2 linked regions of the Homo sapiens genome follow. The protein of the gene in region 1 interacts with the protein of each later gene in a biochemical or structural test. Each region holds a gene or a part of one and is shown on either strand. Other genes may lie near its edges.

Region 1 (5,025 bases):
ATAAAAATCTAAAAGTACTAAGGGCATGTTGGATATTGAAATTCACTACTTTCAAATATTATCATAAAACTTTGAGACAGTAACATTGCACCATTATTTTTCTTCTTTTAAAAACATTTTACTCATTGGTAAAGAGAATATAAACATTGTGGATAACTTTTTTAAAGTAATGGTTTGTTTTTTTTTTCTCCTTCCTCCTTTAAAGGAAGACATATTTTGTTTCTGAGCATGAATTATAATCAAAGTTCTGCTAATTTTTGGGCAAATTAATCCATTATATAATTACCTTCATTTATAAATCAATAATACCTTTACCATTCCCTTTCCAAAAGAACCATGCCTGGCAACATCAGGAACTAGCCAGATGTGTTTTGGAGGCTGCCTGGGGATCCCTTGTTAGACTTTTCGTTCCTTTATGAACCTCTTGCCTGTGGTCCAGCATTGAGCCTCTGCTTCCTTCCAAGCCTTTCCAGGCCAGGCACTTGCTTGTTCTCTCTCTTCTCTTCTCTCTTCTTTTTTCTCTCTCCCTTTCTCTTCTCTTCCCCCTTTTTCTTGTCTCACATTCATCTCAAGGTAACTTAAAGTCCATTTGTTATTCCTCTTAAAGTTATTTTTATTTTATTTTTTTGAGATGGAGTCTCACTCTGTTGCCCAGGCTGGAGTGCAGTGGCACAGTCTTGGCTCACTGCAACCTCTGCCTCCCGGGTTCAAGCAATCTCCTGCTTCATCCTCCAAAGTAGCTGGGATTACAGGTGTGCACCACCATGTCTGGCTAATTTTTGTATTTTTAGTAGAGATAGGGTTTCACCTTGTTGGCCAAGCTGGTCTCGAACTTCTGGCCTCAGGTGATACGCCCACCTTGGCTCCCCAATGTGCTAGGATTACAGGCATGAACCATTGCGCCCAACCTGAAAGTTATTTTAAATCTAGACCTTTATCTGAAATTGCAGAGTGTGAGATGTTTGTTCTCCATTTAAATGGGAACTTCAAATGTCTGAAGGGCTGCTTAGCAATGCTGTTGGGAATGACTGATGTTTGGAAGTGGTTGAATGCCTTCACACCCATCCATGCAGCATTCGTGAACTCTAGTAACTACAGAAGACCAATGCATATCCTGCCTGTGGTTCAGACCTGTGGGTAAGATTTGATCTGGCCACTCCTTTCATTACACTTAGAGATGTAGCTCCCACCCCATGGCTATGACTGGTCTTCGGCAGTGACAAATGCTCATCAGCATCACGTGGATGGGCATAAACTCACCTACCCACTTTCAAACATTAGTCATTCCCCACAGCGTGGCTCTTTGTAGATATGATATCAGTATCAAAAGCTTTGCTGTATCAGATTTCCGGGAATATATTTACCAGGAACCCTGGAGGAAAAAGAGATTAAATTAGGCAATGTTCATGCTATTTTTTTTTCCTAGAAAGCCCTTCCTTTCCCTTTTATGCTCTGTTCAATGGATATTTTCTTTGCTCCCTAGAGAGACACTGAAAAGGAAGGTTAGTGGGAACCGTTGCGCCAGCCCTGTTACTGGTCCAGGTTCAAAGAGGGATGCTCACTTCTGCGCTGTCTGCAGCGATTACGCATCGGGATATCACTATGGAGTCTGGTCGTGTGAAGGATGTAAGGCCTTTTTTAAAAGAAGCATTCAAGGTACAAGAGAATTGTTAACTGCTTCTTTAGTTTCCTACTTTTGATTTCAAACAATTTTGCAGAGATGACTTGGCAGAAATGTCACTACTGGCCTGTTTGGCACACAAAGTATTTGATGAGCAGTTCAGAGGATCATGTGTGTTTGGAAGTGGGTTGGGTGGTGGGGTGGAATTGCAGATTTCTACCCCAGAACCCCAAGATTATACAGCCAACTCGAATGGGTCTTACCCCTCGTTCACCCACATGGGTGTTGGATAGAAGACATCGAGTTACAACCTTGTGAAGATGTCTCTTGGAAAAAATGTGCTCACAAGGAGTTGCAAAGATTGTTTCTTTCTTTTACTTAAATTTAATATATAGCATGCTTAACAGTCATGATGGTGGGCTGGCTCCTGAGGAAGAAAGAATAAACACATTTTTTGGAAATGGTCAGAAATCAGGAATTCAGCTACAGTGGACTTTGAGAATTGATCTAGACACATTTCTTCCCCTAGGCTAGGAGGGTCTCAGTTCACAATCCCCTTGTTTTCTGGGCTGTGTTTAGATTATTTCCCTAACTTTCTCTAAACGCCTTCTGGATTTTTTTTTTTAAATCAACTTGTTGATGAAAAGAATCAAACTCTGTAAAATATTTGAAGAGATTTATTCTGAGCCAAATATGAGTGACAAATGGCCTGTGACATAGCCCTCAGGAGATCTGAGAACATGTGCCCAAGGTGGTCAGGCCACAACTTGGTCTTATACATTTTAGGGAGACATAAGGCATTAATCAATGCATGTAAGATGTACATTGATTCAGCCTGAAAAGGCAGGACACCTGAAAGCAGGGGCTTCCAAGTCACAGGCAGTTCAAAGATTTTCTGATTGGCAATTGATTGAAAGAATTATTATCAGTAGGAAGCAATGATTGGGTTACAATAAGGGATTGTGGAGACCAAGGTTTTATCATGCAGATGAAGCCTCCAGGTAGCAGGCTTCAGAGAGAATAGATTGTAAATATTTCTTAGGGGTCTTAAAGGGTCTGTTCTATCAGTGATTCCAAAAGGGGAGGGAGGGTATAATGAACCATGTCTGTCTCCCTTGTTCCATCATGGCCTAAACTTATTTTTCAGGTTAACTTTGTAATGCCCTTGGCCAAGAGGAGGGACCCATTCAGATGGTTGAGGGGCCTTAGAATTTTATTTTTTGGTTTATAAACTTCAAGTTGTGCACCCCTGATTTCAAGGCTGGTCAGCTCATCTCCCTGCATGTGTCTTTGCTACACTCCTTCTCTCGTACCAGCCCTGATTTGCTGAAGTCACTTTCTTGCTTACTCTTGTTTTCTCTATTTGCCCCATAACCTGTCCCTCAACTGCTCCCTCCCAGGCAACACCCTATGTTTCCATCTGAAAGCTCCCTTCCTTTTTCTATCAAAGCCCCAATGCTTTGTTCTTTGCCAGTTAAGAAAAGCAACGTTGAGAGAATTCATAGTGTGTAAATGGCAAATAGCAATTTACTAAATTAACTCACCCATTGATAACTCTAAGAGGATGTTTTACCTTAAGCAGAGAAATACTGATAGAATCCAGGATATGGTGAGGAGTGAAATGTTGGTAGTCACCTTCCTACCTGTCCCCTGAAATTCACCCTGTATGAATGGCAGCCTCTTTGTCCTGGATTTTATAATTACTAGCTCTGCGACTTCACCTCCTAGCCTGTTTCCTCCTCTGTGAAATGGAGATACTCATAGGGATTTTCTAAAGATGAAATAAGGTTGATTATATGAAAACATATTCAGTGCTCAAATATTTTATTTGTGACAATCTTAACAGTAGATTATAAGGCCAAGTCCATTTCCTGGCTATATGATAAGAACAATATTGATTTTCTGAAATTCTGAACTGAATTCTTGATACGATGACTATTTTGTATCTTGCTGAGTTTCTAGGATTTTACCCCTTAAGAACGTTTGGACCTATTACTACTAACCATATCTTTTAAAAAGAGATCCTTCTTTTTTTTTTTTGCTTTTGGGGAAACATTGGTCTGCTTGAAACATCTTTGACCCCTGAGACTACAGCTAATAACAATTGAAAGTAAATTTCCTTTGCTTCTCTATGTTGTTTCTTCCTTCCTGCTGCATCAGACAGGAATGTCAAATTCTAAATGTGCAAAGAGGAAAGAGTTAAAGCTGTTACAGTTGTACAGTTGTAGTGCCTAAATGATCCTTTCTTTGCATGCTTCCTGTCTTTGATATAAGTGCATTACAGTAACTGAAAGTGGCCACTTATTTTTAAAATTGTCTCAAATAGGCCAGGATGGTACAGTATTGAGAAATTCCTTGCATGTAACTTTTTTTTTTTTTTTTTTTTTTTTGGAGATGGAGTCTCATTCTGTCACCCAGGCTGGAGTGCAGTGGCACAATCTCGGCTCACTGCAAGCTCTGCCTCCCAGATTCACACCATTCTCCTGCCTCAGACTCCCAAGTAGCTGGGATTACAGGAGCTGGCCACCACACCCTGCTAATTTTTTGTATTTTTAGTAGAGACAGGGTTTCGGCATGTTAGCCAGGATGGTCTCGATCTCCTGACCTTGTGATCCGCCCGCCTCGGCCTCCCAAAGTGCTGGGATTACAGGTGTGAGCCACCGCACCTGGCCCATTCTTATGTTTTTTATAATTTTAAACTTGTCTTGCTAACTTGATTTATAAGCTAATTGACCATATCTTAGTCATGTACCTGTCCCCTTCACTGTACAAATGCACTGGAAGCTGTGTTGTGCTTGCTTTTCCATTGATACTTTGTTGGCTTCTTCACACAATGAGTTGCCATCAGAGTGATAAGTGCTGTTGTTTCTCTACTGGGTTATGGAGCACAGAGGAAGGAGGACATAGGGAGAAGGACCTCATCACTTCATCTGGTCCAGATGACAGCATGGCTTATTTTTTGAGCTTATCCTTTACTTTTTGTTCTCTTTCCTATTGGTGTTCATTTAACAAATATTTATTGAGCATTGTACCAGGCTCTACGGATGCAGTGGTGAACAAGACAATAGATTATAGATTCCATGAGGGCAAGGATTTTTGTCCATTTTGTTCACTAGTGGCACTTACCAATTCCTTGAATATGATTTTTCAAAATTAATTGGGCTTATACACAGAGTTCTGTATCATTTTTCACTTAATATTGTCGTATAAGCATTTCTGTTGTTAAATTTCCAGAGACCCTTTTCACAACTGCACAACTGTGTAATATTCTATCTTATGATCAGATTTAATTTATTTAACTCTTTATTATTGAAGGCCCTATCAATTATTTTCATTGTTTTAATGCTATGGTTACTTTATTTGTTCATGAAGTTTTGAAAAAAATAAGTTTCTCTGGATATGTT
Region 2 (4,919 bases), on another chromosome or scaffold:
CTGGCCTTGACCCGGTAGCCACCTCGGCAGCGGTGCTGAAGGCCGAGGGTCTGCATCCCACTGACGGCCAGCTCCACGGGGGTCTTCATGCTGCCTGTGGTCCCTGGTGACAGCAGGTGTGCTCTGCCGGCCAGGCCCTGCTTCCGAGGCTCCCTGTGAGAGGAGGTCAGAGTAGCACCCCTGAGCCACAGAAGTGCTAATGGAGGAAGACCGGTAGTGTCTGAAGTTCTCATCCCAAGGGTTTAGTTCTCTCTCAACCAGTCTCTCAAAGGGGAGCTGTCAACTTCAGGGGGCATTTTGGAAATTTCTTTGGCTTTTTTTTAGTTGTCATAATGGTGGTGAAAGGGGGGCTACTGGCAATTATTTACAGAATGACTCTGGCGGTGAAGGAGAGATGACACCTGTGTCTATTTAGGCACCAACCAGAAAACACACTATGGTGGTAGGGGAGACAGGCACTTTCCTATGTGTACTGATGGGGGTGGGGGCAATGACAGCCAGCGTGGATCCCATGCCTACCTCCTGCAAAGAGCTTTACAAGCATTGTTTCATTTAATCCTCTCAACAGCACTGTGAAGTAGCTTCGAATTTGTCCATTTTACGGATCACAAAACTGAGGTGAAGTCACATGTGTAGGTCACACCTATAAAGCTAAAACGGTGGAAGTGAAATCTGAGTCCAGAGCTTGTGTACTTGGCTACACTGCTATCGGGAGATCACCGCCGCCCCCACCGCCCCACATTCTGCGACTCCCAAATCAATGACCCGATTAAAAAGTGCCCGAGGTCCCTGCATTTTTGGGTTGTTCTCCTACCTGAGCATCTTGGCTCGTAGGCATCGGGATCCTCAGGGACCCGTCCCCGCACCTTCTTCCCACCAGGTCTGGACCCGTCGGTGAGGGCGCGGGGGCGCGCGGTGCATCCGGGATCCCCGTCAATCTGCAGCCCGGAATGCCTGGGGCCCCGGACCCCCGGCAGCCTAGGCCGTCCCGGGGCACCGCGCGCGGACGGACTCACCCGAGGAGCCGGCACAGGCTACGTGTGAACGGCCCGCGAATCCAGAAACCCAGAACCCAGCACTTTGCACCCAGCAACCAGGGAGCAGCCAGCAGCACTGCGGACGCGGCCCGGACCATTCGCGCCCGCGGATGGGGGGAGTCCGCCCAGGGGCGGGCGCCACGCTCCTGAGGCCCAGGAGGTCCCTAAACATGGAGAGGGTCCTCTGGTGCCACTCACTCAGGTGCGTGTGTACTAGGCCGCCGAGGGCCGCAGGCACTGGCGAAAGCTCAGCGGAGGTCACGTGGTCACCGCACCTCCCCCCCCCCCACGCAGTTGGTGCGCTCCTCAGGCCACGCCCCCTTCTGCGTTCCCAGCGCGCGGCCCGAATGGCGGCCGACAAGGGCCCGGCGGCTGGACCTCGGTCGCGAGCTGCCATGGCCCAGTGGAGGAAGAAGAAAGGGCTCCGGAAGCGCCGAGGCGCGGCCTCCCAGGCCCGCGGCAGCGACTCGGAGGACGGCGAGTTTGAGATCCAGGCGGAAGATGACGCCCGGGCCCGGAAGGTAGGCGCGTGGGGCTGGGACGCATGTTCGGGCCCGAGACCCGGCTCCGGGCAGCGCCTCGAGGCCTCAGTTTCCCCAGCTGGGGATTGGGCTCCGCAGAGTGTGGGGAGGGAGGCTGCCGACCCGAGGACCGGTCTTGGGACCGCCGGCCTGAGCACGTGTCTCGGGGCTTGTCAGGCTCAGGGTTCCGCGGCCAGAGCCTTGGGATCCCGGGGCTGGAGCCTGCGGGCCTTCCTGCCGGGTTTTGGTCGCGCGTCTCTCATTGGCTGCCTCCTGCTCGTGGGGCGGATCCTGGCTCCCTTTCGCCCAATGAAAAGTGCGGGTGCAGAAGATCTGACTTTGAGAGTTTGGAGCGTTCTTGGGAGGTTGAATTAAGGGGAGGCCAGACTGCGTGGCTTGAGACAGTGTGACGCCTCCAAACCTCTGGGAAACGAATTAAAACAATTTTTTTTGAGACAGAGTCTTGCTCTGTTGCTCATGCCGGAGTGCAGTTGTGTAGCCACGCCTTGCTACAGCCTCCGCCTCCTGGGCTCAAGCGATCCTCCCACGTCAGCCTCTCCGGTAGCTGAGACCACAGACATGCGCCACCACGCCCGGATAATTTTTAAATTTTTTGTAGAGACGGGGGTCTCCCTATGTTGCCCAGGATGGTCTCGAACTTCTGGCCTCAAGCAGTCCTCCCACTTCTGCTTCCCAAAGTGTTGGGATTAACAGGCGTGAGCCCGGCCAGTTTGTGTTTGTTGACCGTTTACTATGTGCCAGGCTCCATGCTAAGAGCTGTACGAGCCTTATTATTTAATCCTCACACCAACGTTGTGCTAACACCACCAGCAACTGTCATCTTCATTTTTCTACAGGAGGAAACTGAGGCCTAGAGGGTTAAGAAATAGTCAAAGGCCTGGTGTAGTGGCTACACGCCTGTAAACCCAGCACTTAGGGAGGCTGAGGTGGGAGGATTGCTTGAGGTCAGGAGTTCAAGATCAGCCTGGGCAACATAGGCAGACCCCGTCTCTACAAAAAATTAAAAAATTAGGATGGCCGCGGTGGCTCACGCCTGTAATCCCAGCACTTTAGGAGGCTGAGGCAGGCGGATCACCTGAGGTCGGGAGTTCAAGACCAGCCTGGCCAACATGGTGAAACCCTGTCTCTACTAAAAATACAAAAATAGCCAGGTGTGGTGGCATGTGCCTGTAATCCCAGCTACTCGGGAGGCTGAGGCAGGAGAATCGCTTGAAACTGGGAGTCAGAGGTTGCAGTGAGCCGATATTGCACCACTGCACTCCAGCCTGGGTGACAGAGCAAGACTCTGTCTCAAAAAATAAAAATTAGCCTGGCTTGGTGGCGCCCACCTGTGGTCCCACCTCCTGGAGAGGCAATGTGGGAGGATCACTTAAACCTGGGCGGCGGAGAGTACAGTGAGCTGTGGCTACACAACTGCACTCCATCATAAGCAACAGAGCAAGACTCTGTCTCCAAAAAAAGAAAAAAAAAAAAAAGGGAGATCCCATCTTTACAAAAAAAGAGAGAAAGCAGCTTGACCAAGACCTCACAGCTTGTGAGTACAAGAGCCAGGAGATTCAAACTTGAGACTGTCTGATTCCAAGGCCTGTGCCGTTTCCATTACTGAATGTCATGTGTATGCACATGAAGGGATGGGTGTGAGCACCAATGGGGCAGAAGGGCTGCGCCCATTATTTCCCACAGTCCTGTTCCCAGCGGGTGCCTGGCACCAGGTAGGCTCAGGGCAAGATGAGTAAGTGGACATTTATATGAAGAGAAAGGATCACACTCCAAGGCAGGAACTAGAAGAGACCTCATCCCACTGTCCCTCTCTCATCTTCCAGCCTAGCCAGTACCTGGCACACAGTAGGTGCTCAACAAATGTAGAGAAACTACTAAAGGTAATGAACAGCACAGGCGGGCAGAGGTGGTTATTACCAAAGAAGAGGAGTCTAAGTGTAGTTCAGACCAAGGGCTTCTCACGGCACTGCCCTGTGTTCAAATTTGGCCCAACCTTGCACTGGCTGTGGGACATTGGAGAGGTTGCTTAACCTCTCTGTGCCCGTTTCCACATCCGTAGAAGGCAAGTAAATGATTATATATGTTTCAAAGGTTGTTGGCCCGGTGCCGTGGCTCATGCCCGTAATCCCAGCACTTTGGGAGTCCGAGGAGTGAGGATCACTTGATGCCAGGAGTTCGAGACCAGCCTGGGCAACATGCATGGCGAGACTGCATCTACAAAAAATACAAAAATTAGCCAGGCATGGTGGTGTGTGCCTGTAGTCCCAGCTACTTGGGAGGCTGAGGTGGGAGGATCACCTGAGCTAGGTGAGCCGTGATTGCCCCACTGCACTCCAGCCTGGGAGACTGAGTGAAACTCTGTCTCAAAAAAAAAAAAAAAGTGTTGAAAAGACCAAAGGAGGCTGGGCGTGGTGGCTCATGCCTGTAATCCGAGCACTTTGGGAGGCCAAGGTGAGCGGATCACTTGAGGTCGGGAGTTTGAGACCGGCCTGGCCAACATGGTGAAACCCCATCTCTACTGAAAATACAAAAATTAGCCGGGCTGGTGGCATGTGCCTGTAGTCCCAGCTAGTTGGGAGGCTGAGGCAGGAGAATTGCTTGGACCCAGGAGGTGGAGGCTGCAGTGAGCCAAGATCCTGCCACTGCACTCCAGCCTGGGTGACTGAACGAGACTGTCTCAAAAAAAAAAAAAGAAGAAGACTGAAGGACATGCTGTTCATACATTCAGTAGCTATTGCAGGCGCCTGTGTGTCCCAGGCACCTTGTTTTCATGTACCTAGAGCAGGGGTTGGCAGACCTATCAAGGGCCAGATGGTAAATCTTTTTTTTAGGTTTTGTTGGGCCATATAAGATCACTGTCTTTTTTGTTGGATTTCTTTTTCTTTTCTACAACCCTTTAAAAAGTAAAAACCGTTCTAAACTCACAGACTGTTCAAGACAGGCCATGGCTCTGCCCTAGAGGATTGTAGTTAATCTTAGAGGGTCACAGTGAAAAGAACACAGTCTCTGAAGCCAGGGTTCACATCCCTCACCCACTACCTGCTGGCTGTGTGACCTTGGGCACGTCACTGTATCTCTGTGCCTCAGTTTTCTTCTCTGTAAAATGGACAGAACAATAGTACCCACTTCATCAGATTGTTGTGAGGATTAAGTGGGTTAATTTGTATAATTCTCAGAGCAGCACCTAGCTTATAGTAGATACCTTGTAAGTTTCAGCCACTCTTATGAATTGCTGCTCCGTAAATGCTTTTTTTTTTTTCTTTTTTGGTAAAGATGGGGTTTTACCATGTTGCCCAGGCTAGTCTGGGAACTCCTGGGCTCAAATGATCCACCCACCTCA

The links. The genes of interacting proteins can lie anywhere in the genome.
Region 2: the proteins of ESR2 (region 1) and DDX54 form a complex in vitro, tested with the Homo sapiens proteins (one study listed by BioGRID).

The regions. Positions count from the first base shown.
Region 1 is NC_000014.9:64,276,612-64,281,636, reverse strand, and holds part of ESR2 (estrogen receptor beta), read left to right. Parts: intron 1-1,483; coding exon 1,484-1,656; intron 1,657-5,025.
Region 2 is NC_000012.12:113,181,917-113,186,835, reverse strand, and holds the start of DDX54 (ATP-dependent RNA helicase DDX54), read left to right. Parts: upstream 1-1,357; 5' UTR 1,358-1,384; coding exon 1,385-1,558; intron 1,559-4,919. Other genes in the region: RITA1 (RBPJ-interacting and tubulin-associated protein 1), read right to left, coding at 1-153, 815-822.